Regions from separate parts of the Homo sapiens genome. Here all the other regions are linked to region 1. The links come from fine-mapping of genetic effects on gene expression. A gene starts in region 1. Each other region holds a variant in brackets. All regions are shown on one strand. Distances are between the middles of the regions.

Region 1 (10,151 bases):
AGATCAGGTAGACACGGCAGGAGAAGCATTCCTAGCAGGGAACCCCATATACAAAAGGGCACAAGGGGGCGAAAACTTGGCCAGTGTATCCATTTGGCCAGAATAAAGTGGGGGATGGTGGAGGGAGTGAGCAGGGTGGGAAGAAGAGAGCCAAGGGGGAGTTCTGAAGGGTAGAAGGGCCTTCCACATTCAGCGAGTGCTGGTGTTCAGCCTGCAACACTTCAAAGTAAGTGCTGCTGCTATCCCCTTTTTTGCAGATGTGGAAAAGAGCTCAGAGAGGTTAGGTAACTAGCCCAAGGCCACACAGCCAGAAAGTCACAGAGCTGGGACTCAAGCTCGGCCTGTCTTTGCTACAGAGCCAGTGCTCTGGATCACTCAGCAACAACGCCCCCTTCCCCAGCTCCTTGAATGTAAGGCTGAGGGCATAAGAGAAACCCCCGCTGGGTCCCAGGCTGCTGCCTTCCCCTCCCCACCCCTGGAAGATCAGAAGCGTGGGACATCAAGCATGGATAAGGATGAGCTGATGGAGAATTCCCAGCAGCTCCTGGGAGGCCTGTCCACCACAGGGACTGACTCCGAAGAGCTTCTGAGGCAACCAATGAGACGGGCTGTGGCAGGAGCCGGTAAGAGGGGCAGAGACCAGGGAGGGCTTCCTGGAGGAGGTAGAAGCATGAGAGCTGGCTTTGCAGCAGGGGGACTGTACACATGGAGGAGGGAGAGGGGTCTCAAACTGCCTGAGCAAAGGTGTCACAGTGTCTGGGGAGACACAGCTGGGCTGAGGCTTGAGAGGCCAGGTGGGGTTGGGCTGTGGAGGCTGTGTGTCCAAGCTCAGGGAGAAGCTCCTTATCCTGCTGGCAGTGGGGAGCCATGGTGGGGTCTTGAGCAGGAGCAGGTCCAAGGGAGGGAGGGGTCACTCTAAGCAGCTTTGGAGGTGACACAGAGGGACATCAGTGAATGTTACCCTCGCCAGTGAGTGGCAGGAGGGGCAGGCAGGAGGCCTCTGAGCTGCCTTTAGGTTTGGGTTCATTCAGCAGGACTCAAACTGAGGTGCCATCCTGGAGAGAAGCTGGGACAACCCAGGCTCTGAGAAGCTGTCTTGCCTCCTTCTTCTCTCTTGTAATCTTCCCAACCTATTTCCCTCCTTTCTCAGGCCACCCCACATCCAGGGTCCCATCCCTCCCCACCCCTTCATCTCCCCTCCTCCAGCCCTGGGCCCAAGGACACACCTCCAGGGTCCCAGGCCCCCTCTGTCTGGGAGCCCCACCGAAGAGGACAGGTGTGGAGGTCTCTGACCTGCCCAGCAGCATTGCCTGGGCTAGGCCTGCATGTGGGAGAAGCAGAGCAAGCCACTGCATCACGGTCGGCAGCAGCTCTAAGCTCCAAACTTCCCTTCCTCTCTTCTATCTGTCTGTGCCTGCAGACCCCCAAAAGGGACAAATCAAAAGGCTTAATAAGCACCAGGATGGGGCCACCAGACCTCCTCTCTCTCCACCCCTCCCACCCTATTATCAGCCCTTCCGTCCCAACCTGAAAGATCAATAATGGTTTGGCAGGGAGAGGAGGCCAGGGCAGGAGGGCACGTCCCCGTGGCCTGGGGCTCCAGTTAGATGGCAGCCAGGCTGGAGCTGTCTGGGCAGGCTAGACAAAAAGAAACTTGGGAGCAGAGGCCCTCTGGTTTCCACCTGGCGTAAAGCTGAGTCTGCTGCTCACTTGCTGTGTAAGTTCCTTCCCTTCTCAGGCCTCAGTTTCCCCATCTGAAGAATGGGGGTGTTGGATAAGATGGCCTCTAAAGAGCCCTGTACCTCTGACTTTTGGACATTCTGTGTGTATGGACTCCGGAGCCCAAGGGCCTGGGTCCAAATCCCAGCTTCTCTGCTTACTAGCTGCGGGACCTTGGGCAAATTATCCAACCTCTTTGGGCCTCAGTTTCCTCACTTGTCAAAGGAGGATAAGAATTGAACATACTTCATAGGATGGCATGAAATGACATGTGCCAAGTGTCCGGCACAGGTAGGTGCTCAGTAAATGCGAGGTCAAGGCTTTGGGTGGAGGAGTTCAGGCTGAGGGCAAAGGCTCTTAGGATCCAGTATTTCAGATGAATGTGGGCCAGGGACGGGCGCGGTGGTTCACGCCTATAATCCCAGCACTATGGGAGGCCGAGGCGGGTGGATCACCTGAGGTCAGGAGCTTGAGACTAGCCTGGCCAACATGGTGAAACCCCGTCTCCACTAAAAATACAAAAATTAGCTGGGCGTGGTGGCAGGTGCCTCTAATCCCAGCTACTCAGGAGGCTAAGACAGGAGAATCGCCTGAACCCGGAAGGCGGAGGTTGCAGTGAGCCGAGATCACATCACTGCACTCCATCCTGGGCAAGACTCCCCATGGAAAAAAAAAAAAAAAGAGCAGAGGACAGGGGATGCACGCGGAACCAAGAGCTTCGGGAGCTACACACCAGGGCCCGTGCACCCTGCCAAGCCACTCCAAGGGGAAAGACTGTATCTCTCCCCTTCATTCAGCCATCCACAAACACCCCACACCCCCAAGCCAGGAACCCCAAGCAGGGAGGCAGCCCCAGGTGATGACTGTGCAGGGAGCTGAGCGACCACATGAGGGCAGTGGAGACTCGATCAGGACCGCATAGGATTTGGCCTTAGGATGGGGGTGGGATGTGAGAAAATGGGGAGAGGGGTGAGGCCAGGGGGCCTTGGAGTAGGCGGAGGCTGGAGAGTGGTTGCCTGTCCACAGACTCCCCATTCATGTCACATGTGGTATTCGTCATCCATGCAAGTATTTGTTCCTTTATTCATTTCTTCAGTTTGTTTATTCTTCTAAGCCAGCCCCTCTGCCGTCCATCCTTCCGTCTTTCCTTCCTCTCTTTCTCACTCTGTTTTTTTCTTTCTTGTCCCTTTGGTTTGTCTGGCCAGGAGATCAACTGGGCATACCGTCCTGAGCCACAGCTGGGTGCCAGCCTGAGAGAGGCACTCCTCTAGGGGATACGGTGAGCCTTGGCCCCTGCCCTTGAAGGGTTCAGGGCAGTAGGCCACGGTGCTGGGCTCCCCACAGATCTGGGCCTGGGGTTGGTGGGGCCTCGAGGGGCCTAAGTCTCCCACAGGCTGCAAGTCCTGAGAAGCCTCAGTAAACACTAAAACAGTAAACAGTACCCTGGCCAGGCAGACTGTGTGACCTGGGCCACCACTCTAAAAATAAATTCCAGGAAAACAGTATGGTCCCAGGTCCAGCAATGTCTGAGATTCAGGGACATTCCCTGCCAACCAGAGCCGATTTCTGTGGCCTGGTGACTAAGCTCCCTCTCGCAGGAGCGTAAGCATGGTGGGGGAGCGGAGGCTGGGGCTTGACGTCAGGAGATTGAATCCTTGCTGTGTCCTGCTGGTCTAAGACACCCCTCTGCCTCTCTCTGAGGCTCAGTTCCCAAATCTGTAAAATGGGAGGAAGCAGGTCATCTGCTTGGTCTACCTCGTGGTCTGAGAGCTAAATGAAATTGCAATTGTGCAGATGAGGCGTGATGGAGGGAGACCACCTGGCTTTGGGGTCACGCCTGGATCCAAATTCTAGTTCAGCCTCTTACTAGCTGTGGATGTTAGTCAACAACTTAGCCTCTCTGGGCCTCAGGCTCCTCATCTGTGAAATGGAGCTAAGAGTCCCTACCTCCTAGGGAACAGTGCCTACACGTGGCTTGCAATCCACTAATGGGTGTTGTTATTATTAGGAAATGTTCAGTGAAACTGTATAGCATGACAAACATCAAGTGTGTCATTACAGAGATTATCCCTATAGCAACCAAGGCCAAACGCCTCTGCCTGACTCTCAGCTCCCTCCACCCCCAGTCTGGCCCCACCTGCCTTCCAGCCTTGCCACCCAAGGCCTGACGACAGCAGCAGTTGGGAGGAAGATGCTGACAGCTGATCCGAGGGGGTGGGGCCCCTCTCACCACTCCTTGGGGCGGGGAGCCCTGCTCTGGAGCTACCTGCCCAGCCCAGTGTCAAGTCACTGCCGAGCCCTGTGGCAGTTTCGGGGAGGAAGGGGCACCTGGAAAGGCAGAGCTGTGCTGGGGAGGATCCTTCCCTCCAAGTGGGGCTCCATCCAGCCTGCAGACCACAGCCCGGAGCGGGAGCCGGGCAGAGGAGTCAAGGAGCTGGGCTCTGCCTCTCCACCTAGTGACTCCTGCCCTGGCTGCCTCTTTAGACCACAGTGAGTTTAAAGGAGGTTGAAGGTGCTTTTTCACCTGCCTGACTTGGAACTCCATGAGGGGGGATGTCATGACCAGCATAAATTAGGGGGAACCTAATGACGTCTGCCCCTTGTTCTTTTAAGCTTCAATAGAAACACTCAGTCCAAGATCTGGGAAGACCCTTGTGCCCATTTTTAAAAGATTTCAACTCTGGCCATTAGGAGAAGTGGAGAGATCAGGTGACAATGAGTTCCCAGTTCAATGCTGGATTTACTGCTGGCATCCAACGTGCTCCACTGAGCAAGCACCAGCTCCTCATGCTGCACCACTGTGCAAGCGAGCCTCACCCTCTGCGGGGGCGGGGTGGGGGGGCAGCATTCCGCTCCGGCCTCCGCAGCTTCGCACGTGCCGCTGTCTCCGGTGGAACACCTTTTCCCTCCCCCATCTGACTGTGTTTCACTTTTTCCTCAAGACTCTGAAAGGTTTCCTGACTCCCTCAACGTGGGCGAGGAGCTCTTTTCCCCTACTCCCGTCCCGCTGCCTGTCCCTACTCCCGTTGTAGTTCTGATCACACTGATGTCCTGCGTGTCTACCATTCTAAGCCGTGGGCTTCTCAAGGCAGGGCCTGGATTTTGTCTTAAACAGTTCAGGGTCCCCGGGCCCTTGGGCACCAGGGGGACATCTCATGGTGCAATAATAAGAAACACTCACACTTTACAGAGGGAAGGTTCTATCGCTTTCCCTAGATCGTGGCCAGCCACGGTGTCAGGTGGCTGCCCACCTGCAGCAGAGCTTCCTGGTGCTGCGGGAGGGGGCAGGCCAGGCCTGGTGGGGCCAGTGAAGGGGGTCATCCCCTTCCCACCTGGCATGAAACGCCTGTGTTGTGCTGCGTCCTGAGACCCCTGGGGAAATGCACCATTCATTCATTCATTCATTCATTCACTAAAGGTCACTGGCTCCTGCCTGGGATCTGGGACCCAGCCCCTGAGCACACCCCCGCCCCCACTGTCATGGTCCCGCTGTTTGTCTTCTCCCTTCCGACCTCCCGTGGCCCCAGCGCGGCCAGCTCACAGTAGGTGCTCGGGCAGCGTTTCTTCAGGGACCTAGACGGCCTGGAGAGGAAGGGCCCCAGCCCAGCCGCCCGGGCCTCTCACCTGGCTCTCGGGGCGCCCGGCTCGCACTTCCTCCCGCCGCCCCGCCCCTTCCACATTCCTGCCCCGCCGGGCCTGCCCCGCGCAGTCTGGGTCTCTGCGCCGCAGCCGCCCGCCCGCCCGCTCAGCGCCCGGCCCCGGGATGACGGCGGCCCAGGCCGCGGGTGAGGAGGCGCCACCAGGCGTGCGGTCCGTCAAGGTGGTCCTGGTGGGCGACGGCGGCTGCGGGAAGACGTCGCTGCTGATGGTCTTCGCCGATGGGGCCTTCCCCGAGGTGAGTGCCCCGCGCCTCCGCCTCGCCCGGTTCCGCTCGCGCGCCCGGGTGTACAGGTCCGTGCCGGAGCGGCCCAGGCTGTGCGCCTAACCCGGCCTCCGAGGGGTGTCCCAGCGGGGCCTGGGGTCCAGGGCAGAGTTCTTCCGCCCCAGCCATTGGGAATGAAGGCCTCAGTGATGTTATCTGTAAAGCCGGAGGAATGGCATCCACCGGGGAGAGGTGTCACAAGGACTGAGTGAGGCGACCTGGGTGCACACAAGATCCTAAGACAGCACTTGGCCACACAATTCCGCTGAGGGCCTGAGAGCTTGGAAGCCAGACTGCCGAGGTTCAAATTATGGCTTTGCCTCTTATAGCTGTGTGCCCTTGGGTAAGTCCCCTAACCCTGCTGTGCCTGTGTCCCTCACTACATCACAGGTGAGTGACAGTGCCCACCACACAGGGTCACTGTGACAGAGAGTTAATAGACCTCAAGCACTCAGCCCCGGCCTGTGCACAGGAAGGACTCACGGAGAGTTGGCACATGTCGCTCCTGGGAAACATTGTCTCCCTTCCAGCTCTTGCCGCTGGAAAGCACATGCCATGGGCTCTGCCTTGGAGGGTGGGAGCACGCCAGCTGTAGCCTCAGCTGCTGGGCCCGCGTCTCTGCTCTCCTCTGAGCCCCGTGCCCTTTTGTAACCTGCTTAGCTTCTCTGAGCCTCAGTTTCCTCACAACAACCCCATGGGGTAGAGGGACTGTAGGGCAGTGGTGAAGTGGAGCCCAGGGGAGGCTGACAGGCAGCTCCCGTGCGGTAGCTGGCATGTCCTTGGCGCTGTAGGCATGCCCACCGTTAATCCTTCCTGACATGCTCACTGACTGCCCAGGCAGACTCCACGGGCACCAGGCGGCCCCTGCTCTGCCGCCTCTCAGCCCTGTTGTCCTGGGAGTCCATGGAGTTGCTTCCAGCATCTCTTCTTTTTTTTTATTTTTATTTTTTTTGAGAAGAGTCTCACTCTGTCACCCAGGCTGGAGTGATATTGGCACAATCTCAGCTCACTGCAACCTCCGCCTCCTGGGTTCAAGCGATTCTCTTGCCTCAGCCTCCTAAGTAGCTGGGATTACAGGCGCCCACCACCACGCCTAGCTAATTTTTAAAATTATTTTATTTTATTTTATTTTTGAGACGGAGTCTCGCTCTGTCGCCAGGTTAGAGTGCAGTGGCACAATCTCGGCTCACTGTAACCTCTGCCTCCCAGGTTCAAGCGATTCTCCCGCCTCAGCCTCCCGAGTAGCTGGGACTACAGGCGCGTGCCACCGTGCCCAGCTAATTTTTGTATATTTTTAGTAGAGACAGGGTTTCGCCATGTTGGCCAGAATGGTCTCGATCATTTGACCTGGTGATCCGCCCACCTTGGCCTCCCAAAATGCTGGGATTACAGGTGTGAGCCACCACACCCAGCCAATTTTTTTATTTTTAGTAGAGATGGAGTTTTGCCATGTTGGTCAGGCTGGTCTCGAACTCCTGGCCTCAAGCGATCTGCCCGCCTCGGCCTCCCAAAGTGCTAGGATTACTGGCCTGAGCCACCGCAACTGGCATTCTTCCTCCTTTTCTTCCCAGCATCCTCTAAGCCCCTGGGGTTGTATAGGTGCTGGAGCATCTGAGCACAAGCAGGACGGTCGGGCCTACCCCAGTTCTTATCACACTGTAGTTCTTATCAGGATGATATCTGTCTGCCTGTCTCCCACCCTTGGCCCATGTGCTTTCTGCTGCAGTGGCATTGAGCCACTTTTGTTTAGTAGCTTGCGGAGCTGGTGTCACCTCCTTTGACCAGTCATACATTTTTTTAAGTTGGGGGAAACATGTTTCTGGGCCCCTAGATGCTGCCCATGGGAACCCAACAATGAGGGCACCCGGGGAAGAGCACCACACAGGGACAGGTGGCCCAGGCCCAGGGGAAGGCACCTGATGGGCGGGGGCTGGAGGGCTGATGCCTCACCACCAGCTCTGAGATGTCCTTGATGGTGAGACCATCCCAACTTCAGAGGAGTTATGACGTGGAAATGGGCCTCTTCCAGTTGATAAGATGTGAATGCTTTGAGGGACATGCTGGGGCTGGCCAGAAATGGGGGGAGGGCATGCTTATCACCAGGAAAATGGGCTGGATTTGTCCAGGCTCCTCCCGTCTGGGGGCTCTGAGTTCCCTGGAGCAGGAGAGTCCTCTTCATTTAAAGAACCCACAATGGGCCGGGCGTAATGGCCCACACCTGTAATCCCAGCTCTCTGGGAGGCCAAGGTGGGTGGATCACCTGAGGTCAGGAATTCAAGACCAGCCTGGCCAACATGGTGAAACCCCATGTCTACCGAAAATACAAAAAAAATTACCCGGGCATAGTGGCAGGCGCCTGTAATCCCAGCTACTCGGGAAGCTGAGGCAGGAGAATCGCTTGAACTCAGGAGGTGGAGGTTGCAGTGAACCGAGATCGCGCCATTGCACTCCAGCTCGGGGACAACAGAGCGAGACTCCGTCTCAAAATATATATAAATATATATATATATATGTAATTAAATAAATTAATTAAAAGAACCCACAACGTGTAAGAGTTGGAAAGGCTTCATTTTGCAGATGGGAAAACTGAGTCCAGAACCCAGAGGCTTACCTGGGGGCACATGGCCCGGCAGTGGCAGCACTGATCTAGAGCCCAGGTCTTCCCCCTCCCGACCAGGGCCTTCTCCACAGCCCCCAGTGCTCTGCCTGCTGGACCCAGCCTCCTCCTGCCCCTGTCCCTAGCACCAGACTCTTCCTCTAGGCAGCCCTCGAAGCCCAAGGGGCCAGCAGCCAGGAGGCTGGAGTCCCATCTCCCAGACTTCCTGCACACAGCAAAGGGCTGAGAGCAGCCTGAGGATTTGGAGGGACCTCAGTGACCCTCATCTGGCTGTGACCCAACCCTGGATTCAGGGCAGCAGGGGAGGGCAAGGTGGAGAGAGCTCCTAGGACAGGGGGAAGCCCCAGGCTGGGGTGCCAGCCTCTGCCCAGTCCTGGCTGGCATTTGTGGCTGCAACCATTCCCACAGGTTCAAAGCCTAGCAGCCCCCACACCAGCATGGGGATAGGAGGTGGCAGGGAGCACCCGGCCCTGCTGGCTAGAGCCCCCTGGGTCCTTCCTGGTTCGCACTTGGACTCCCATGGGTGTCCTAACCAGGGATGCCCCGACACTCCCTCTTGAGCCAGGTCCCCCATCTTGGTAATGATTCATTTTCTGTCTGTGAGCCCCTGGAGGGCAGACCTGAGCCTGAGTCATCTCCGTCCTGGTCCAGCACAGGCCCAGTCCTTCTTTTCTGGCTGAGGACGGCTTAACAGATAAAATTAGGTGCCATTGATCCCATGGACAGAGGGTGACCCTGCCTGGGGGTCAAAGAACAACACAACAAAAGGTACAGACAGAGTCTCTAGGATGACGTCCCGAGTGGGGGAAAGGGCTGTGACAGTTACAAGCCAGAGGGGAAACCCAGCCCCTTTCTGTCTCCGGGAACTGGAGTTGGTAACCTCAGGAAAGGCAGGTGGCTGAGGACAAGGCCTGGTCTCTGCAGCCACAAAGACCTGGCTCTGTCACTAGCCAGCTGTTCAGTGTGTCACCTTGAACAAGTCATTTCCTCTCTCTGGGCATCATCAGAAAGTGAAGGTTGTACTGACGTTCCGAGCTTGCAAGGATCGGAGATGGTGCCAGTACACAGCCACACACAGAAGATCCTTAGAGAATGGTGGGTGGTGGTGTCATTACCATGGGCATTTGCAAAGCACTGAAACATGTCTCCCAAGAGATTTCCAGCAGGCTGCCTTGCAGCTCAGATCAAGAAGGTGACTGAGTGGGTGGTCAAGCTGGGAGCTCAGATGCAAGGGCACCAGTGCCCTTCACAATGACAGGCCCCTACTCTAGGACAAAGGTCAGAAGCTGCGGAGGGGCTGGGTGTATTAGTCCATTTTCACATTGCTATAAAGAACTACCCGAGACTGGGTAATTTATAAAGAAAAGAGGTTTAATTGACTCACAGTTCTGCATGGCTGGGGAGGCCTCAGGAAACTTACAATCATTGTGGAAGGTGAAGTGGAAGCAAGGCACTTCTTATGTGGCAGCAGGAGAGAGAGAGAAGGGGGAAGCACCACACTTTTAAACCATCAGATCTCGTAAGAACTTCCTCACTATTGGCCAGGCGTGGTGGCTCACACCTGTAATCCCTGCTCTTTGGGAGGCCAAGGTGTGCAGATCACTTGAGGTCAGGAGGAGTCCAGCCTGGCCAACACTGTAAAACCCCATCTCTATTAAAAGTACAAAAATTAGGCTGGGTACGGTGGCTCACACCTGTAATCCCAGCACTTCGGGAGGCCGAGGCGGGTGGATCACCTGAGGTCGGAAGTTCGAGACCAGCCTGACCAACATGGAGAAACCCCATCTCTACTAAAAATACAAAATTAGCCGGGCGTGGTGGCACATGCCTGTAATCCCAGTTACTCAGGAGGCTGAGGCAGGAGAATCGCTTGAACCTGGGAGGCAGATGTTG
Region 2 (10,151 bases), 870 kb after region 1:
ATTAACTCAAGACGGCCTACAGACTTAAATGTAAAACCCATAACTATAAAAACCCTGGAAGACAACCTAGGCAATACCATCCGGTACATAGTGATTGGCTAAGAGTTCATGGTGAAGATGCCAAACGCATTTGCCACAAAAGCAAAAATTGACAAATGGGATCTAATTAAATGAAAGAGCTTCTGCACAGCAAAAGAAACTATCAAAAAATAAACAGACATTTCTCAAAAGAGGATATACAAATCACCAAGTTTATGAAAAAATATTCAACATCACTAATCATCACGGAAATGCAAATCAAAACCACAGTGAGATATCATCTCACACTTGTTAGAATGGCTATTATTAAAAAGACAAAGCACAACAAATGCTGGCAAGCATGTGAAGAGAAGAAAATTATCGTATATTGTTGGTGGGAATGTAAATTAGTACAGCCATTATGAAAAAAAGTACAGAGATTTCTCAAAAAACTAAGAACAGATCTACCATATGATCCAGCAATCCCACTCCTGGGTATATATCCAAAAAAAAGGATATCAGTCTATCAACGGGATATCTGTACCCCCATATATACTGCAGCACTATTTACAATAGCCAAGATATGGAATCAATCTAAGTGTCAATCAATGGATGAATGGATAAAGAAAATGGGAATATACGCACAATAGAATAGTATTCAGCCATAAAGAAGAATGAAATCCTGTCATTTTCAGCTAAATGGATGGAATTAAAGGTCATAAAGTTAGGTGAACTAGGCCATGCACAGAAAGAAAACTATTGCATGTTCTCACTTATATGAGCAGTTTATGCTCCTGGAAATCAAAGTGGGGGCCATGTTTCAGGTCAGCAGGGTCAGGGATAGAGACCGCAGTTATGGACTTGTGTGCCCTGGAGCTATATAAAATTGATATCATGGAGATAAAGAGTAGAATGATAGTTACCAGAGGCCGGGAATAGGAGGGGTTTGAAAAGAAGTTGATTAATGGGTATAAAAATATATAATAGAAGGAATAAGATCTAGTGTTCATTATCACAGAAAGTGACTACAACAATTTGTTGTATGTATATATTTTTTAAATTTCAATAGTTTTTAGGGAACAGGTGGTATTTTGTTACATGGATAAGATCCTTAGTGGTGATCTCTGAAATTTTGGCGTACCCATCACCAAAGCAGTTTACCCAATGTATAGTCTTTTATCTCTCACCCCCTCCCACCTTCCCCCTGAGCCCCCAAAGTCCACTGTTTCATTCTTGTGCCTTCGCATCATCATAGCTTAGCTCCCACTTACGAGTGAGAACATGCAATGTTTGGTTTTCCATTCCTGAGTTACTTCATTTAGAATAATGGTCTCCAACTCCATCCAGGTTCCTATGAATGCCATTATTTCATTCCTTTATAAGGCTAAGTAGTATTCTATGGTATATATACATATATATATATACACACATATATATACACATATATATATATATATACACACACACATATATATATACACATTTTCTTTATCCACTAATTGTTGATGGGCATTTGGGCTGATTCTATAGTTTTGCAACTGTGAATTTTGCTGCTGTAAACGTGTGCAAAAGTATCTTTTTCATATAATGACTTCTTTTCCTCTGGGTAGATACCTTGCAGTGGGATTGCTGGATCAAATGGTAGATCTACTTTTAGTTCTTTAAGGAATCTCCATACTGCTTTCCATAGTGGTGGTACTAGCTTACATTCCCACCATCAGTGTAAAAGCTTTCTTTCACCACGTCCGTGCCAACATCAATTTTTGCTTTTTTTGTTTTTGTTTTTGTTTTGGTTTTGAGATGGAGTCTCGCTCTGTCACCCAGGCTGGAGTACAGTGGTGCGATATCAGCTCACTGCAACCTCTGCCTCCCGGGTTCAAGCAATTCTCCTGCCTCAGTCTCCTGAGTAGCTGGGATTACAGGCAACTGCCACCATGCCTGGCTAATTTTTGTATTTTCAGTAGAGACTCGGTTTCACCATGTTGGTCAGGCTGGTCTCAAACTCCTGACCTCCTGATCCACCCACCTCAGCCTCCCAAAGTGCTGGGACTACAGGCGTGAGCCACCGCACCTGGCCCTATTTTTGTTTATTTTACACGTGGTATTGCATTGTGATTTTGATTTGCATTTCCCTGGTAATTAGTGATGTTGAGCACTTTTTCATGTGTTTGTTGGCCATTTGTATATCTTCTTTTGAGAATTGTCTATTCATGTCCTTGGCACGCTTTTTGATGGGATTATTTTTTTCTTGCTGATTAGAGTTCCCTGTAGATTCTGGACATTAGTCCTTTGTCAGATGCAGTTTGTGAAAATTTTCTCCCACTCTGTGGGTGATCTGCTTACTCTGCTGATTATTTCCTATGCTGTGCAGGAGGCTTTTAGTTTAATTAAGTCCCATCTATTTATCTTTGTTTCTATTGCATTTGCTTTTGGGTTCTTGGTCATGAACTGTTTGCCTAAGCAAACGTGTAGAAGCGTTTTCCAATGTTATCTTCTAGAATGTTTATGGTTTCAGACCTTAGATTTAAGTCTTTGATCCATCTTATGTTGATTTCTGTATAAGGTGAGAGATGAGGATCCAGTTTTATTCTTTTACATGTGGCTTGCCAATTATCCCAGCACTATTTGTTGTATAGGGTGTACTTTCCCTACTTTGTTTTTGTTTACTTTGTTGAAGATCAGTTGGGTGTTAAGTATTTGGCTTTATTTCTAGCTTCTCTACTCGGTCCCATTGGTCATGTGCCTATTTTTATACCAGCACCATGCTGTTTTGGTGACTATAGCCTTGTAATATAGTTTGAAGTTGGGTAATGTGATGCCTCTAGATTGGTTCTTTTTGCTTAGTTTTGCTTTGGCTGTGCAGACTCTTTTTTAGATCCAATTGAATTTTGGCATTTTTTTTTCCAGTTCTATAAAGAATGATGATGGTATATTGATAGGAATTGCATTGAATTTGTAGACTGCTTTTGGCAGTATGGTCGTTTTCACAATATTGAGTCTACCCATCCATGAGCATGGAATGTGTTTCCATTTCTTTGTGTCATCTATGATTTCTTTCAACAGTGTTTTGTAGTTTTCCTTGTAGGGGTCTTTCACCTCCTTGGTTAGGTATATTCCTAAGTATATTATTTTTACAGCTATTATAAAAGGGTTTGATTTGATTCTCAGCCTGGTAGATGTTGGTGTATAGCACTGCTACTGATTTGTGTACATAGATTTTGTATCCTGATAAATGGATTTATTGTATATTTCTAAATAGCAATAAGATTTGAAATATTCCCAACACAAAGAAATGATCAATGTTTGAGGTGATTAATATCCTAAAGACCCTGATTTGATCATTACACATTGCATGCATGTGCCAGAATCTCACATGGACCCCACAAATGTGTACAATTATTCTCTATCAAAAACATTTTTTTAAGAAACATGCAGGAATACACTGTACCTCTTCCTTGCTGTCTCTGGATATTGTCACATGAGGACTTGACATGCGGATTGTGGCAGCCTCTGTGACCAAGAGCAGAAGACAATAGCAGCATAGAAACCTCAAATGAAAAACCTAACATCTCAAGCTACTAATTTAGCCAACCTTGGCATCAGCTATCTCCGGTCTTAGTACATGAGGTGATAAGCCCCACTGTTCAAGTTGGGTGGCCATCAATTGCTGCACAATAGAAGTTAATGAGGCTTCTTCCTCCTGGAACCCCTACTAGACCCTGACATACCCATTCAGTCACAGGCAGAAAGGGAAGCAGAGGGTAAGGAGACCTGGCTGGCTGTGCCAGATGCAGATCTTACCTGTCCTGCTTAGAACATTCAAAGCTCAATTGGTTAAACAAAAAAAGGAAAAAGACAGTAAGGAGTATAACACTCCCCAGATGCAACTTAATCTAACACTCTATACTTTAAATTTTCTAAACATACATAGAAATCAGACCACTACTTCTGCAGAACATTTTACTGGTAAAAAGAACAGCCCACATGAGGGAAAACTGATTTGGTGGAAAGACAACAAAAACAAAACATGGGAAATAGGTAAGGTGATAACATGGGGGAGAGGTTTTGCTCGTGTTTCACCAGGAGAAAATCAGCTTCCTGTTTGGATACCCACTAGACGTTTGAAGTTCTACAATGAACCCATCAGAGATGCAAATGAAAGTGCCTCCGCAGAGACAGAAAACCCACAATCGAGCATCATCGACCCGCAGGGTGAACAAAATGGTGATATCAGAAGAACAGATAAAGTTACCATCCACCAAGAAAACAGCACATGTGGAGAGCCAGGGAGAAGAATAGAAAGAAAAAGAGACAGAGATCAGAGACAGACACAGAAAGTGAGATTGGGGAGAGAGATAGTGTAAAAGAGAGAGAGAGAGAGACCATAAGAGAAGGGAGACAAAGAGATAAAAGGTGCGAGTCAGTAGGTGAGGAGAAAGACTGAAAACTATGAGAAACAGCAACTAAGACACAAAGGAGGTGGGAGACTGCCCGGGTGCCGCAGCACCCACACCGTCCTCTTGCCCCCTGTCACTTGGGTTAAAACCACCGGAAATTCCACTATTGCAAATTTTATATTAATCCTTGTATGTCTGACTTTTCTATTGTTAGTCTACAGGTGTATCCAGCAGCTCCAGAGAGACAGCGACCAGGGAGAAGGGGCCATGATGATGGTGGTGGTTTTGTCAAAACGAAAAGGGGGATATGTAGGGGAAAGAAAGAGAGATCAGACTGTTACTGTGTCTACATAGAAAGGGAAGACATAAGAGACTCCATTTTGAAAAAGATCTGTACTTTAAGCAATTGCTTTGCTGAGATGTTGTTAATCTGTAGCTTTGCCCCAGCCACTTTGCCCCAACCACTTTGACCCAACCTGGAGCTGAAAAAACATGTGTCGTATGAAATCAAGGTTTAAGGGATGTAGGGCTGTGCAGGACGTGCCTTGTTAACAAGATGTTTCCAAGCAGTATACTTGGTAAAAGTCATCGCCATTCTCTAGTCTCAATAAACCAGGGGCACAATGCACTATGGAAAGCCGCAAGGAGCCCTGCCCTTGAAAGCTGGGTATTGTCCAAGGTTTCTCCCCATGTGATAGTCTGAAAAGTGGCCTCGTGGGATGAGAAAGACCTGACGGTCCCCCAGCCCGACACCCATAAAGGGTCTGTGCTGAGATGGGCTAGTCAAAGCGGAAAGCCTCTTGCAGTTGAGATAGAGGAAGGCCACTGTCTCCTGCCTGCCCCTGGGAACTGAATGTCTCGGTATAAAACCCGATTGTACATTTGTTCAATTCTGAGATGGGGGAAAAACCGCCCTATGGTGGGAGGTGAGACATGTTTGCAGCAATGCTGCCTTGTTATTCTTTACTCCACTGAGATGTTTGGGTGGAGAGAAACATCAATCTGGCTTACGCGCACGTCCAGTCATAGTACCTTCCC[T/G]TGAACTTCATTATGACATAGATTCTATTGCTCACATGTTTGTTGCTGACCTTCTCCTTATTATCACCCTGCCCTCCTACTACATTCCTTTTTGCTGAAATAATGAAGATAATAATCAATAAAAACTGAGGGAAATCAGAGACTGGTGCCAGTGCAGGTCCTTGGTATGCTGAGCGCCGGTCCCCTGGGCTCACTGTTGTTTCTCTATACTTTGTGTCTTATTTCTTTTTTGTCTCTCATCCCACCTGACTAGAAATACCCACAGGTGTGGAGGGGCAGGCCACCCCTTCATTATGAGATTACAGGCAAGAATAACCCCACCTGGCCACCTAACTCACTCTTGAGAGGCCAGAAGTGATGCTGGAATTTTCTTCCTCTGTGGTTTAAAAAGGGAAAATTAGGGAGAACACAAGGCATGAGCGATGCAGCAATGGATATGTCTATATGGAGCTTCTGTCTGCATCCAGTAGAAAATGCATTTCTAGGCATCAGGTTTAAGAGCGAAAACCTGGAGTCTTGTCTGTTAGCATTCTCCTTCCCCACAAACCAGAGAGGGAATACATTTTGCTCCAGCACATCCGGATGTAGGAAATGTCACATTCCTATTTCTGTAACTTCACTTAAATCTGCTCTGAGTCCCTGGATGCCTGGCAGGTGGAGAATTCAATCTTGTCGTTACCAGCATTGCTTTCCCTTCTCCATGGGCTTATGTAAGAATTCTGGGCTTACACACTGTTGGAAAGCCAGGTAGGAACTACTTCCCCCGAACTCTCCATTCTTCCAGCTGCTCATGATCCATCAGCCTTTTTTGGGCCATCTGCTATAACAAGACCCTCCTCACAGCATCATTCCACTGACCCACAGGCTCAGCCCCAGGGACCCTCACTGTAACAGGTCTCCACTATGCATAGGAACTCACAAAAACCTTCTCTTCATCTTGGCTTCCTCTGATATCCAGCCACTCCCCTCTTCTCACCTTAAACACAGATGGCAGCTCCTTCCCATCATTCCAACCCTTGGGGATTGTCCAGCCAAATTCTCTTCAGACACCAAAGCTTCACCCACCCTCTTCATGGAGATGATGCAAGGGCATCTGAGATCTTTGGAAGCCCAATTCTGGCCTCTCTTTGGGGTGGGCTGAGAGTGGGAACTAGACTCTCTTTTCCAAGTGCCATGTTTATCTTGTTCATCATTATATTATCTCCAATGCCTGGCACATAGTAGGCACTACAGACTGACACATAGTAGGTGCTATTAGTGTCTGTATAATGGGACTCTTGAGGTCGAAGCTATTAGCAGAAACCTACCAAGCAAAAGGATGGAAAACCGACCACCAAAAAAAAAAAAAAAAAAAAAAAAAAATGAAAACAATCATGGCTTTGAGCTCTAAACACACAAGGCACCAGCCCAAGTTTGGGCAATTTTAATACAACAGCCATTTTGCCTCCAAACAAACTGGCACTGGAAACCTCCGTCTGCCTCTTAAAGAGAACCAGTTTCTCTTTCTCTAAGTGGGCAGCATTTCTCCCCGGTGACAGTACCCAGCCCACTGCCACCAGCAAAGGACTGCAGCCAGGAGCCAAGAGCTTGATAGTTTAAAGAATATATTTTATAGGGAAAAACAAAGTAACATCCACATAAATCTGGAAGTACCACCACTTTCCAGAGGCCGAATCCCATTTGTGGAGTCTCTTGCGTGTCAAGCACCTTGCAGTCACCTCAACTACATACTTTTGGGATTCGTTGCAGAGACGAGTGAAGGTTATCTGCAAAACAAAGGAACTAGGGCTCAGAATTCCCCGAGCAATCCATGACAGAGGAGGTGAGTAGAAAAGGGAAGGGTGAAGTCAAAGAGAGAATTCAGTGAATTGGCCAACACCAAGCAAGGATCATGGGACCCTCTCCATGGCTCCACGTCTCAAATGAAGTCAATAAAACCCATCAATGCTTGGTGTAAGTGTTGTATGCTCCCGGAAATGAAAGCAGGGGCCACATTTCAGGTCAGCAGGGTCGGGGGTAGAGGCAAAGGTCATGGACTTGTGGGCCCTGGAGGATGGGATGATTCTGAGACATTGAATCCCTACACTGATCTCAGTAGAAATCTCAGGTAGGGCTTCAACATTCGTGGCCCAAGGACTCTGTGTGCCTGAGAGCAAAAGCCTTGGTGCATGTCCCGGCTCCATCAATCCCAACTGGGGCTTTGAACAAGTTACTTATTTTTTTAACTAACGTTATTTTAATTGACAAATCATAATTGTACACATTTATGTGATGTTTTGATATGTGTATACAATGTGGGATGATTAGATCAAACTAATTAACATGTCCATCCACTAATTTACTGACAATTTTTATGATGAGACATTTGAAATGTAGTCTCTTAGTTATTTTGAAAGATACATTATTATTGACTATAGTCACGCTGCTGTGCTATAGATTTCAAAACACATAATCCAGCAACCCAACTTCTGGGTATAGACAAAAAAAAATCGAAATCAATATGTCGAAGGGATCCCTACATTCCTATGTTCACTGCAGCACTATTCACAATACCCAAGATATAGAATCAACCTAAGTGTCCATCAGTGGATGAAAGGATAAAGAAAATGTACTATATACACACAACGGAATACTATTAACTCTTAAAAAAGAAAGAAATCCTGTCATTTTCAACAACATAGATGAACTTGAAAGACATTGTGTTAAGTGAAATAAGCCAGGCACAGAAAGACAGATACTGCATGATTTTATTATATGTGGAATCTAAAGAAGTTGAACTCACAGAAATAGAGAGTAGGACAGTGGTTATCAGGGGCTGGGGTGGAGGAAAGGTAGGGGATAGGAGACACTGCTCAAAGGGTACAAAGTTTCCAATACGAAGAATAAGTTTTGAACAAGCTAAACTCCTCTGAAAGCTCAGTTCCTCATCTGTAGAGCGGGGACACATCATTAACCTTCTAAGGATGTTGCTGTGAGAGTAAGAGATGATGTTCAGCACAATACCTAATGCACAGTCAGGTCTTCTTAAGCTTGAACCTGCATCGCCATGACCTCTACATCACAGGACAGAAAGGCTCACAGCCAGTGTCTCAGTTCCCAGTGAAAAGTGGATCCCAGACCAGGCTGAATAGCAGGATCCCTAGGGGATACTCCACCCTACTGAGTCAGAATCACCGGAGGTAGAGCCTGGGTATGTATGTATGTGCGCGTGTGTGTGTATGTATGTATGCATGTATGTATGTATGTATGCATGTATGTATGTATAAGAGACAGGGTCTTGCTCTGTAGTCCAGGCTAGAGTGCAGTGTCACAATCATAGCTCACTGCAGCCTCAAATTACTCCTGGCCTCAAGCCATCCTCCCATCTCAGCCTTCAGAGTAGCTGAGACTAAAGGCGCATGCCACCAGCCCAGATACTTTTTTTTTCCTTCTTTTTGGAGAGAGTCTCACTCTGTTGCCCAGGCTGGAGTGCAATGGTGTAATCTTGGCTCACTGCAACATCTGTTCTCGGGTTCAAGTAATTCTCATGCCTCAGCCTCCGGAGTAGCTAGGATTACAGGCATGCACCACCACACCAGGCTAATTTTGCTCTTTCATTGTTGTTTCTTGATTGTTTTTCACAAATAGGACTTCTTATTTGCTACTGTTTTAAGCCTGAACTTTAAACAGATTCTTGGACTGGTGGTTCATATCCATCAGCTCATTCAACTTTAGCATGTGTCTCGTCCCTAGTGGGTTTTCCAGAACTACTACCATCACCACGAAGCTCCATGCCTTTCAAACCCAGGGTTCTCCAGCATTTTTATTTTTCTAATGAAGACATCATGGAGAGGATAAATTGGCAAGCCTTTTCTACATCTTTTCCAATGTTGTCTGGAATCAATTTATTAACCACTTCTTTCAAGTCATTTGTCTGCACCTCTCAGGTCATGATTTCCATCATCTTCTTCTGGATTTGGCAGACTGTTGGTGCTAAGCATAAGAGGTCTTCAGTATCAGATTGTTGTGTTTTTTAGTAAAACCAACACAAAACATAAGAAAGAAGTAACCATCGGTAGTCTTGACATCAACATGAGCTTCGATCATTGTTGAACATTTTTCAACCTTGGAACATATTTTGTCACAGGTAAGACCCATGCCATAGAAGTTAGTCAGGCAATTTTTGCCCTGAACATCTTCAGTAATCAGCTTGAATTTTCTAAATGCAACTTCATCATTCTGCAAATCTGCAAGACTCATTTCAAACACAAGACCCTTGAGACCATCAGATGCAATTTGGGTTCCTTGGGTCCTGGTGACCAAGTCTTTCCAATATTTCTTATATTGAACATAGCAGGTGCTTTCACATCATACTGATCTTTCTTAGAGAATGGACCAATTACTTTCTTCTTAACTCCCTTTTTGCCACCTTTCATAAGGCACTTGTTCTTAACAACCGCCATGGTGCTGCTCAGAGTACCAAAAGGCTAAATTTTATATTTTTGGTAGAGAAGGGGTTTCACCATGTTGGCCAAGCTGGTCTTGAACTGATATCAGGTGATCTGCCCGCCTCAGCCTCCCAAAGTGCTGGGATTACAGGTGTGAGCCACTGCACCCAGCTGATATTTATTTTTTATTTTTTTGTAGAGACAGGGTCTTGCCATGTTGCCAAGGCTGGCCTGGAACTCCTGGCCTCAAGCAATCCTCCCACCGCAGCCT
Region 3 (10,151 bases), 300 kb after region 1:
GGTGTTTACTGATTGAGCAAGGCACTTTTCCTCTCAGCCTTGGTTTCCTTATCTGTAAAACATGGATAGTACTTCCCTAATGAGATTGTTCTCAGGATTCAACTAGATAACATGTGTGCAGCATTTCACATAGCAGATGGCATGGATAGGCACTTAGTAAACATCAGAGCCCTCCCAGCAGTGTCAGGCTCTTAGTAAATATCTGATTCTTGAATATTCCCATCCCCAAATATATCCCCCTACCTGAGGCTCCTCTCATATTCTCTGCCTCCCTTCCTGTCACAGTGCATGTGTCTACTGAAGGCCACCCTCTTCCTGTATCCTGGTTCCTGGCCCTCCTCACCCTCACAAAGATCTCACTCACACAACTGCCTCCTCATCTCCGGTAACCTCAGGTTCCCTCGCTACTGGATCTCTCAGATCACTTCTCTCTCTACACTCACTCTGGGGATCTCATCCACTGTTGGAGCTTTCAAGGCCATCTAAAAGATTCCCAAGTTTATATTTTAAACCTAGAATGCCTCAGAATCCGAGACTTACATATCCACTGCCTATACCCCATGTCCCTTTGGAAGTGGCACAGATACTTCAGCATGTCTAAGATGGAGCTCCAGATTCCTGCCCCACCCTTCCCACAAGTCTTCCCATCTTAGTAATGAGAACTCTGTCCTTCCAGTCGCCCAAACCAAAACCTTTGGAGTTATCCTTGGCTCCTCCCTCTTAAATCCCACAGTCGACCAATAGGCAAGTCCTGCCAGTCAGCTCTTCCTTAAAAATACAGAGCGTACCTGGCCACTTCTGAGCAGTCCACCTCCCCACGCTGGTCCAGATCACCCTCAGCTCTCATGAGGCCAACTTCAGTAGCCTCCTGAGTGGTTTTGCTACCTCTGTTTTCCCCAGCTCCACAATCTTGTTTTCCACCAACAGAGTAATGTTTTCGAAACATAAGCTTGACTCTGTCATTTATTGGCTTCAAGCCCTCCAGTATCCTCCCCTCTCACTCAGAATCAAATCCAGTTTCTTATCATGGCCCTAGGGACCAGCCCGCTGCCTGTCTGCCCTCAATTCCCACTACCCTTCCTCACTCCCTGGCCCCCAGCCTCACTGGCCTCCTCAGTGCCTTTCCTGGAGCAGGCTGGAAACACTCCTTCCTCAGGAAGCTTCTCCTTGTTGCTCCTTCTGCCTGGAACCCTCAGATGCAGACCTTGCTCCCTTCCTTCCTTCAAGTCTCTGCTCAAATGCCACCTTAGCAGAGGGCCTTCCCTGACCAGTCTCTCTAACATAGCGCCCCTGGCATCCTTGGACCCTTTCTGATCCCAACTCTGATTTTGCTTACTACTGACTGCTACCTGTCATAATTAACTTACGTGTTTGTTTTTGCCCATCTCCTGACCATTAGTAATACCCCAAGGGGACCTTTGGTGCCTGGCACATAGTGAGTGCTTAGCAGCTGGGCAGGAGGTATGGCATAGTCTGGAAGAGGTTAATGCAAGTGGCCCCTGGTCACTGCACTGCCTCTTGCCTGCTGTGTGCTTTTGGGCAACTTTACTTAACCTTTCTTAGTTTCAGTTCCCCCTCAGTAAAACCTACCTGGAAGGTTTTTTAGGAGGATTCGAGGTAATACATTTAAAGTACCTGAGACATGATCAGTGCTCAGACGGGGGCTACACAGGCCACTTAGCTGCCCTCTAGGCCTGTTTCCAAGAACTTACTAGTGCTGCCTCCATCTACCCCCAGGATAGAGGGCTGCCACAGTAGATGAAGGTAACACTATAGAAGCGGTTACTGACTCTATTCTCCATGTCATACCCTGACCCTGGGTCCCCTGGGCATTGTTTCTGGCTCCAGCCAGTTCTCCTCCATCCCCCAGCACCATCAGTTTCTTTTTTCTTTCTTTTTTTTTTTTTTTTTTTTGAGATGGAGTCTTGCTCAGTCGCCCAGGCTGGAGTGCAGTGGCGCGATCTCGGCTCACTGCAAGCTCCGCCTCCCGGGTTCACGCCATTCTCCTGCCTCAGCCTCCCAAGTAGCTGGGACTACAGGTGCCCGCCACCAGGCCTGGCTAAGTTTTTTTGTATTTTTAGTAGAGACGGGGTTTCACTATGTTAGCCAGGATGGTCTCGATCTCCTGACCTCCTGATCCACCTCCCTCGGCCTCCCAAAGTGCTGGGATTACGGGCGTGAGCCACTGCGCCCAGCCTTTATTTTGTATTTTTTTATTTTTTGAGACGGGGTCTCTCTCTGTCACCCAGGCTGGAGTGCAGTGATGCGGTCTCAGCTCACTGCCAGCTCTGCCTCCCGGGTTCACGCCATTCTCCTGCCTCAGCCTCCTGAGTAGCTGGGACTACACCTGGCTAATTTTTTGTATTTTTAGTAGAGATGGGGTTTCACCATGTTAGCCAGGATGGTCTCGATCTCTTGACCTCGTGATCCGCCCTCCTTGGCCTCCCAAAGTGCTGGGATTACAGGTGTGAGCCACCGCGCCCAGCCATCAGTTTCTTACCAAAGCCCCTCAGATGATGGTCATGTCTGAGCAGGTCCTGCAAGTTGAGACCCTCGCCAGCCCTGCTTTGGATCAAGGTGGCCCCCGATGTGGGAAGCCAGAGGTGCTTGCTGGGAATGTATAGATATGTTTGGACTTCATGAGCTATGGACCCCAGGGGTCCTTCTCTGGCAAAGCACCCATGTTTGTGAGGTGGGCACCGCTTAGCAAGGCAGGTGGCTGGCTAGTCAGGTAGGTTTTCCCTGGCTGCTCCAGAAGGTGAGTCATGAGTAGTTTCCCTGTGGGCCACCAGGGGGCACCAGAGGTCGCTCAGCTCTTCCGAGGACTTGATCCGTCTCAAGATGACTGTCTCCTCCCTCTTCGGCCTAGGACTTTCTTGAAGGAAAAGAGCTGTAGTGGTGCCTCTCTCATCTCCTAACTTGCTAGGGACTGCCAGTCAAAGCAGGGCCACAGTAAAGGACTGAAGGTCAGGATTCCAGGCTCAATATTCTTTATTGATAAGCATTAGTGAACCCCTTGCCCTGGGAGCTCAGCCAGTCCTGCTCTCAGATTCCTGGCCTTAGGTGGGAGAGCATCTTTTCCTCATGGATCAACTGTCCATGTCTGACTGTGCCTAACTTGCCAGATCATGGGTCAGGGAGACAGGCAGCAGGTATTGGAAGGTGATGGCCAGGTCCTTTTCCCCAGTGACCACTCTCCATCTAGAAGCACTCTGCTTCAGCTGCGCAGGCTCTTCCGGGGACTCTGGGAGCCTGCTGGTTAGATGGAGGAGTTGAGCCTCTGACACCTCCAGGTTCTGCCTGCCAAGGGTTCCTCCGCAGCCGGGCTGAGCTGAGCAGGAGCAATGGGCTCTCGCTTCTGTCCTGAGGTTCTTGGGTGGTGAGCAAGAGAGCTAAGGGCAGGAGGTCTTACGTGGTGCCTCATAGGGGATAGAGATGCCAGAGACTGTGGAAGATGGGGTGGGAGGGAGGGATACCCCAGAGAGAGAGAGAGAGAAACAGAGAATCAGTTGTTGAGTCCCTGGATCTGATTTCACCAGCTTATTCTTGGCCATGCCCATAGTCCTTGGGAAACCCCTCAGTTCTAAATAGATAGTTCCTTGGGTCCTGGGTGTACCTTTGCCCCCCACTAGCTTGTAGAGGTAAGAATTATTGGCCGGGTGTGGTGGCTCACGCCTGTAATCCCAGCACTTTGGGAGGCTGAGGTGGGTGGGATCACGAGGTCAGGAGATCAAGACCATCCTGGCTAACACGGTGAAACCCTGTCTCTACTAAAAATAGAAAAAATTAGCCGGGCGTGTTGGCGGGCGCCTGTAGTCCCAGCTACTTGGGAGGCTGAGACAGGAGAATGGCGTGAACCCGAGAGGCGGAGTTTGCAGTGAGCCGAGATCGCGCCACTGCACTCCAGCCTGGGCAACAGAGCAAGACTCTGTCTCAAAAAAAAAGAATTATTATAGTGGCGTGTCCTCCTGAGCCAGGCACCTCATAGAATCTTCTTGCCTGTTCAGCAAGGCCTTCCAACCCTCCATCCATTTCTCCCTCAGGTCAGGACAGCAGGGTGACAGTGCCTGGAGAAGGCCCTGGCTCCCCTGAAAGCCCTCCCGGCCTGTCTCTGACCTGCACTGGAAGCGGGGGTCTCCGGGGTGGGTCTTCAGCACCTGCCACACCTCTGGGGGAGGCTCCAAGCCCATCTGCTTGGCCCGACACCAGCGCTGCAGCCGTGTGATCCCTGCCAGGGTGGGAAGAAGACTCTGGAGACTTGTGGGGGGTGGGGTAGAGTCTGAGCTGGAGAATGTGTGTGTTGGGGGGAGACAGTTCCTGAGGGTCAGAGTCACGCAAGCGCTTGGGTGACTTCAGAGACGTGTGGGTGACTGGCTGGGAGAGGCGCCTCCGTGGGGCTGGGTGGGTTCTCACCGGTGCAGGGCCCGTACTGCCAGGCCAGGTCAAACTGCCTCAGCAGCTCCAGCTCCGCTTCCTCCTCGTCGCGGGGCTGGGGCTCCTCCCCTGCAATGACAGCTGCTCTTCAGTACGAGGTTGGCTTCAGTCTCCTGCCCCTCACCTCCCAGCCTTCCTCACCACCGCTTTGCCTCTGCCACCCCGCAGCTAGACCTGGTGTCGGGAGGGGAGGACAGGCCACCTTTCCCTTTCCATCGGCCCCTCCGCCCCTCTAGGGGCCTCCTCTAGGCCCCTCCGTGTCCACTCCTCCTGCCTCCCTCACACCTCAGAGACCTAGCTCGGGTGCCAGCTCCCCCTTGCTGTGCCCAGCGGGCCCCTCCCTCCTCTTCACAACCGGGTAGGAATCAGTGATGAGCCGCTTCCGGCCCATGGCGGCCACCCAGGCAGGCAGAGAAGGAGGCAACTGCGGGGAAGAGGAGAGACCGGCCAGTGGGCGCGAGAAAGACAGCTGCTGAGAGAGACAGACGGGGCCAGGCCAGCGGCGGGCAGACAAGATGACCCAGACAAACCGAGAGAGGAAGTCGCCGGGGTCCAGGGAGGGACGCCTCCCCCACCCCCAAAAGCACGCAAACAGGAAAGACTTCAGCCAATGGCAGGCCGCCTATGCGGGGCGGGGCCCTGGCGCTAGCCAATGGTAGGCAGTGTAGGGTGAGGGGCGGGGCGGTGCCTCAGCTGTGGGCCGCGGGAGGAGGGGCAGGCTGGGGCGGGGGACCTGTCG[G/A]GATGCCCCGACTTCACCACCTTCCCCGGCCCCCATTGGTCTGCTGTGGGTCCCGAGAGACTTCAGGAGAGTTATCTTCAGCCTCTCACTTCCCGTTTTCCCTTCCTAGGCAAATGTTCTTTTCAGCTTCGCTAATCCCCGTGGCCAGTTTGTAACTCCCTAGAGTCCAGCTGGAGCCTTCACTCGGTCCTTTGGCCCGCCCCGCCTTGTGGGGGCAGGTCTGGAGGTCTGAAGAGAGTTTGGGCTAATCCAGGCCCCTTCCCGGCTCCCACCCAACCCCCACTGGCCCCAGGAGACCTGGCTGGAGAAGCCCATGGGTTCTGAAACCTCCTTTCTCACAGTCTGTGCCCAAAGATGCTGCCCACTCTTAGTCCGAGTAAGTGTTTGCCGTTTTGACTCTCCTGGGGTCCCAAGTCGTGTCCGGCCCGCCCCACCAGTCAGGAAGATTCCATACTGAGTAGGAAGGCAGAGCAAGGGTCTGGTCCCCCCACCACAATGTGTTTGGATCCCTAGTTCTTCACTGGCAAAATCTGCCCTGTCTCTCACAATAATGTGAGTCTGAGCAGAAAATATTAATAATAAACCTAACACTCATTGCACGTACCATGTGCCAAGTACTGTTCTAAGCACTTTCCCACATGTTAATTAAAATAGATGTCAAAAAGTTTTTGAAAGTAGGAAGTATAGCTAAATGATTATCACTGCTGATAGTCACAGGCATTGTAGGGCCCCAATCAAACCACAGTCTCTCTTGCACCCCAGGAGCTCACTGTCACAAGGCAGACAGATGCACAGTTGTCAGTGAGAGGCTATAATTCCTACCAGAAGAGGGAAAGGGTGGGTCAGAGATTGGTTAGGACCACAGGGATGATTAGCATTGGAAGGCCTCCTGGAGGAGGTGGACTGCTGTAAACAATGTCTCTCAATTCTCCACCCATGACCTTTGTCCCTTGGGCTCCTGTCATCACTGACTCACCCATACTGCTGCCTCCCCCTCACCAACTTCCTGGCAGGAGGCAAAAGTACTGGCCAGTGGGAGTCTGGGAACCAGCACAGGGACCAGCCCAGCTCTAATCACCCTCCAGAGATCCCATCCGGTTCTTCCTTCCAGGGATACTGGGAGGGTGGGGCACAGACTCCTGGGCTGCTGCCTGCTCAGAGGCCTCTGCCTCCTCCTTTCCCTGCTCTGGGGTCTGGGTGTTCTGCACTGGAAGAGGGCTAAGCCACTGGTACACGTGGGCACAAGGGAGGAAGCTGCTCTGGAAAGGAGACCACCAGAGGGGAGGCAGAGGAGCAGGCCATGTCTTCAGGGTCCACGTCCTGCCTGGCTCTCCCCATCGGCGTCCTAGAGGAGGGAGCTTGTGGGGGCACTGCATGGAGCTGGAGGGCCCTTTCTGCTGTATTGTTTGGGCTGGGCCTAGTCTAATCCCCCCATCTGCCTTGCGGACTAAGTGGGGCCCACATTCAGGGAGACAGTGTCCCTGCGGAGTTAGTGATGGAAGCAGGGAGGCCCTGTCTACCAGGGCTGGGAAGGGCCTAGGTGCTGAGTCCAGTCAGGTGCTGAGCATGCTAGGTAGGGATGGCGTCTAGGCTCTGGGGGATTGACTACCCCTCCCCAGAGGGTCTTGGCAAGGGTTCCTGGGCTGTTTCCAGAGGTGTGTGGCACCCACCTCCTGAGTCCACCAAGCCCTGAGGGAGTAGGGAGCCATGGGTGGGGCAGACCCCTCCTCATTCCCAGTCCCTCCCACCCCTGAAAGCTGATAGCCGTGGGGCCCTGCCACCGCCCAGGGAGCGTGAAATGGGGTGTGCCGCTGGGCAGCCACAGTAGCTCCTACCACCGCCTGGGCCTATTGCCTTTTCTCCTTGGGCAGCCTCTGGCATCCTGAGCTGCTCTGTAGATGTTGGCTGGGCTGTCCCTGCCAGCTTCCCCAGCTTTGCCTGGCACAGGCCCCAACCCAGGCTGGAAGATGTCTCCCTCAGGCTTCAGCTACCCCCACACCCAAGAAAAAGATTCAGAGTGGTCAGCTCAAGTGCAGGCACCCTAGGCCTGGCTTTCTGCCTTGGAGTTGAGGGAACTCTCTGCAGGCAGCATTGCTGCTCTCTCTTAGATGGCAGTAGGGTGGAGCCCCTAGGAAAGAGTTGGCACCCAGGGATTTTGGAACCATCCCTGTCCAACTGGCATGCCCTGACTCAGCACCTGAATCCCTAAGGTGCGCTGAGGACTAGGCTGGACCTTGACCTTCCTGTCCTCAGGTCTTTTCCTTCTTTGCTGTCCAACCCCATCCACCTTCTGTACCTTCTTGCCTAGAACCCCTTCACCTACTCAGGCAGCATCCTGGCCTCATTCCCTAAACTGCTGTCTTGGAGCCTGTTCAGGCTTCAGACTGGATGGCCAGGCCAGAGTTCTGGGTTGGGTGCTGAGTTCTCTCTCCCTGGGGGAATGTCCTGAGACCCTTGTGTCAGCCCCGACACCCAGAGGCTGGTGATGAGACTAGTAGGAGTGACCTTTGCACCTCAGCCTGGTAACAATACCCAAGACCCTTGCTTCAGGGCCAAGCCCAGAGTCCTGGGGGTCCAGGAGAGAAAAGAACTGAAACAGGAACCCGGCACCTTCCCAGGGGCTGAGGCCCACCGCTGACTGCACTCAAGGGAAGGATTAGGTCTGGCTTAGCTCAGACAATGTGGTAGAATGGGGGCCTCAGCACTGCACCTGCATTCCCTTCCCCCACCTCACCATGAGGTTTGTGGGGAGAGCCAGGTAGAGCTGGGAAGCTGGAGGCAGGTGGAGAGAGGGGAGCAGCTGCCTGGGACCCAGTGGGCTGTGGGGTGGATCCAGCTCTTCTTCCCTCTCGCCAGTACCCCCCTTCCTCAGGCCCTTGGGCCCTGCCACCCACCCTGAGCTGAAAGTCAGTCCCACTCAGGAGATTCTGGGCAGCCAGAATACCCCTGGCCCCGGCCCCCAACATACTCACACACCGTGGGCCCCATTCCTCACCCTGTGGGCCAGAATTCTTTCAGGCAGTCCTTCCTAGTCCCTCACTGCCTTCCCAGACACTCCCTCTTCCCCTGGTCCAGGTTCTCTGGCCTAATGTGCTTCCATCGCAGCAGCTTGAGTGGAAAGGATGGGGTCTCTGGGTTTTTCTACCACTGCATCTTCTGTCCTGCTCCTACCACCCTCCACACCTTCTTCTCTAGTCACCTCCTCTTTCACCTTGGCCATCCAGGCTCTGGAGCAGTTCCGGGAAGACTTGAAAAGGGGCCTTCTGGCCATTACTCACCTTGGCCACCAGGTGTCAGACTTTGCCCAGCTGGGTGGGAGGAAGGTTCTAGTTAACCATTTCCACCCCATCAGTCTGGCCTCAGAGAGAGATCTGGGCAAGTTGGGGAGGAGCCTAGAGGTGACCACTGAACTGGCAAGGCTGAGGGACCCTGAAGGTTGAGACTGGGAAAAGGACTGGAACTCTGACTCTACAGCTTTCCCCCAGATCCCCCTCACTGCCACTGCCCCCACACCACCCCACTGACAAGGGCTTTGTCCCCTGCTGGGAAGTTCAGGAACGAGGCTGAGTCAGGGAGCTTGAGAATTGAAGGAACAAAGGCAGGGACAGTTGTAGCTCCACAGCAGAAGGGGAAGCTGAGAGGGAGCTGCCCATCGGAGTGCCCAGCCAGGACTGAGTCACTAGCCCTTGCCCTCTAGGTTAAGGGGAACAGAGGGCCTCCCTTTGCCCTTCCCCATTTAGGGTGGCTGTGGCAAGTGAGAGTGTGTGTGTGCATGTGTGTGTAAACTCAGTGCTTGAATGAGCCTCTCATATCATGAGGCGGCCTGTAAGTCTTGGACGGTAGGTCAGTCTTTGCAAAAGTGGAAAACTGGCAAGATCTGAGTATTGTGCCATCTCCCATCAGAGCCTCCTCTAGCCCCACTTCCCCCAGAGGTTGCCCCTGCCTCAAGTGATAGTTCTCCATTTTATGCTCATTCTTTCAAACATAGGTGTGTTTCTAAGCACTCAAGATGATGACAAGATTTCTAATCCTTACATTCTATCTGGAGATGATGGAGAGGAGGGTCTTCTCTTGCCCACTCTCCCGATCCTTGTGGGGACATGAGGAATACTAGAGATAACACACCCTCCACCCTTTGACATTGCAATGCCTTAGAGTCTCATGTTAGCCTCTGGGCCTCTGACTCTGAAGCCATTCTTAGGAGGTAGAACCTCGATAACCAACAAAACTCATTGGATCTCCTGAAGCAGCTCTGGATGGAAAACCAATGACTCACTCACAGAAAACGCCAGTGCCCTGTGATCTACCAGGTGCTCCCTGTGCTGTGGTGCTGGCATTTTCACAAGATGCCTGTGGGACACAGTGCCAAAACACAAACGAGCAGCTCACATCCCCTGTCACCATCATTAGGGGCTATTTGAGAGAGTTCAAGAACTCACACTCTGAAGTGCCCTCTCTGATGGTGCTCTCATCCCCCTCTCCCTCCACCACGCCACCGCCACTGTGGGAGCGTTCTGCGTCCTCAGCATGCAGGAACCCCAGCGCTCCCCATTCAGGATTCTTCTCCCAGCCTATTCCCCTCCTCTGTTTCCCTCCACTGACCACTCTTCCCTTACTGCCTGGCTCTGGCTCCCAGCCAATTTCCAGTAGTTTCCAGCAGCCTAGAATCCCCCTTGATTCTCTGCCATTCTTGCCTTGCCAATCCTCAGCCTTGGAAAATGCCCTCTTCTCCAGTCTGTCCCTCCCTCTGAAATGCTAAGGAATGTCACTGCCCATGGTGACAGGTCCACGGCAAAGGTGCCTGCTGATATCACCGGGTTCTATTTGGCTGCCCAGACACCCTTTGGCTCTCCTGTGGTTGTCTCCTTATTCCATTCTCTAAACCTCCCCATTTTTCTCCACCCGCCCCCTACTCACTCAGCAATAACATGTTTAGATCACTTCTATTTAACAACAACAACAACAAAACAAACAAAAG

Alleles and levels. Alleles are on the strand shown, and positions count from the first base shown. SD is a standard deviation of normalised expression in the study named. Not every link is listed here.
For the expression in whole blood of the gene that starts at base 5,427 in region 1, allele G in region 3 goes with a higher level than allele A (large effect, 1.2 SD a copy in Lepik 2017).

The links. PIP is the estimated chance that this variant, and not a neighbour inherited with it, causes the effect.
Region 2: its variant is fine-mapped to the expression of RHOD in minor salivary gland (GTEx, PIP above 0.99).
Region 3: its variant is fine-mapped to the expression of RHOD in whole blood (Lepik 2017, PIP 0.95).

What each region holds. Positions count from the first base shown.
Region 1 is chr11:67,051,421-67,061,571 of GRCh38, forward strand. It overlaps RHOD (ras homolog family member D), which reads left to right and starts at 5,427. Exons shown (of 5, transcript NM_014578.4): 1 at 5,427-5,614. The coding sequence starts at 5,483. RefSeq lists an enhancer at 2,397-2,506 and silencers at 5,326-5,485, 5,496-5,565.
Region 2 is chr11:67,916,537-67,926,687 of GRCh38, forward strand. All of the region lies in intron 3 of LOC112268076 (translation initiation factor IF-2-like), which reads right to left. It also overlaps the pseudogene RPS3AP40. Among named protein-coding and RNA genes, the nearest start is that of LINC02754, 37 kb to the left of the region's middle. The variant T/G (reference allele first, on the strand shown) is at 5,454.
Region 3 is chr11:67,348,575-67,358,725 of GRCh38, forward strand. POLD4 (DNA polymerase delta 4, accessory subunit) reads right to left here and starts at 4,972. Exons shown (of 4, transcript NM_021173.5): 1 at 4,729-4,972; 2 at 4,414-4,503; 3 at 4,117-4,228; 4 at 2,198-3,445. The coding sequence starts at 4,825. The coding sequence ends at 3,421. The region is part of intron 2 of LOC100130987 (a long non-coding RNA gene); the gene reads left to right. RefSeq lists enhancers at 3,652-4,234, 4,235-4,816, 4,810-4,859 and a silencer at 5,040-5,289. The variant G/A (reference allele first, on the strand shown) is at 5,174.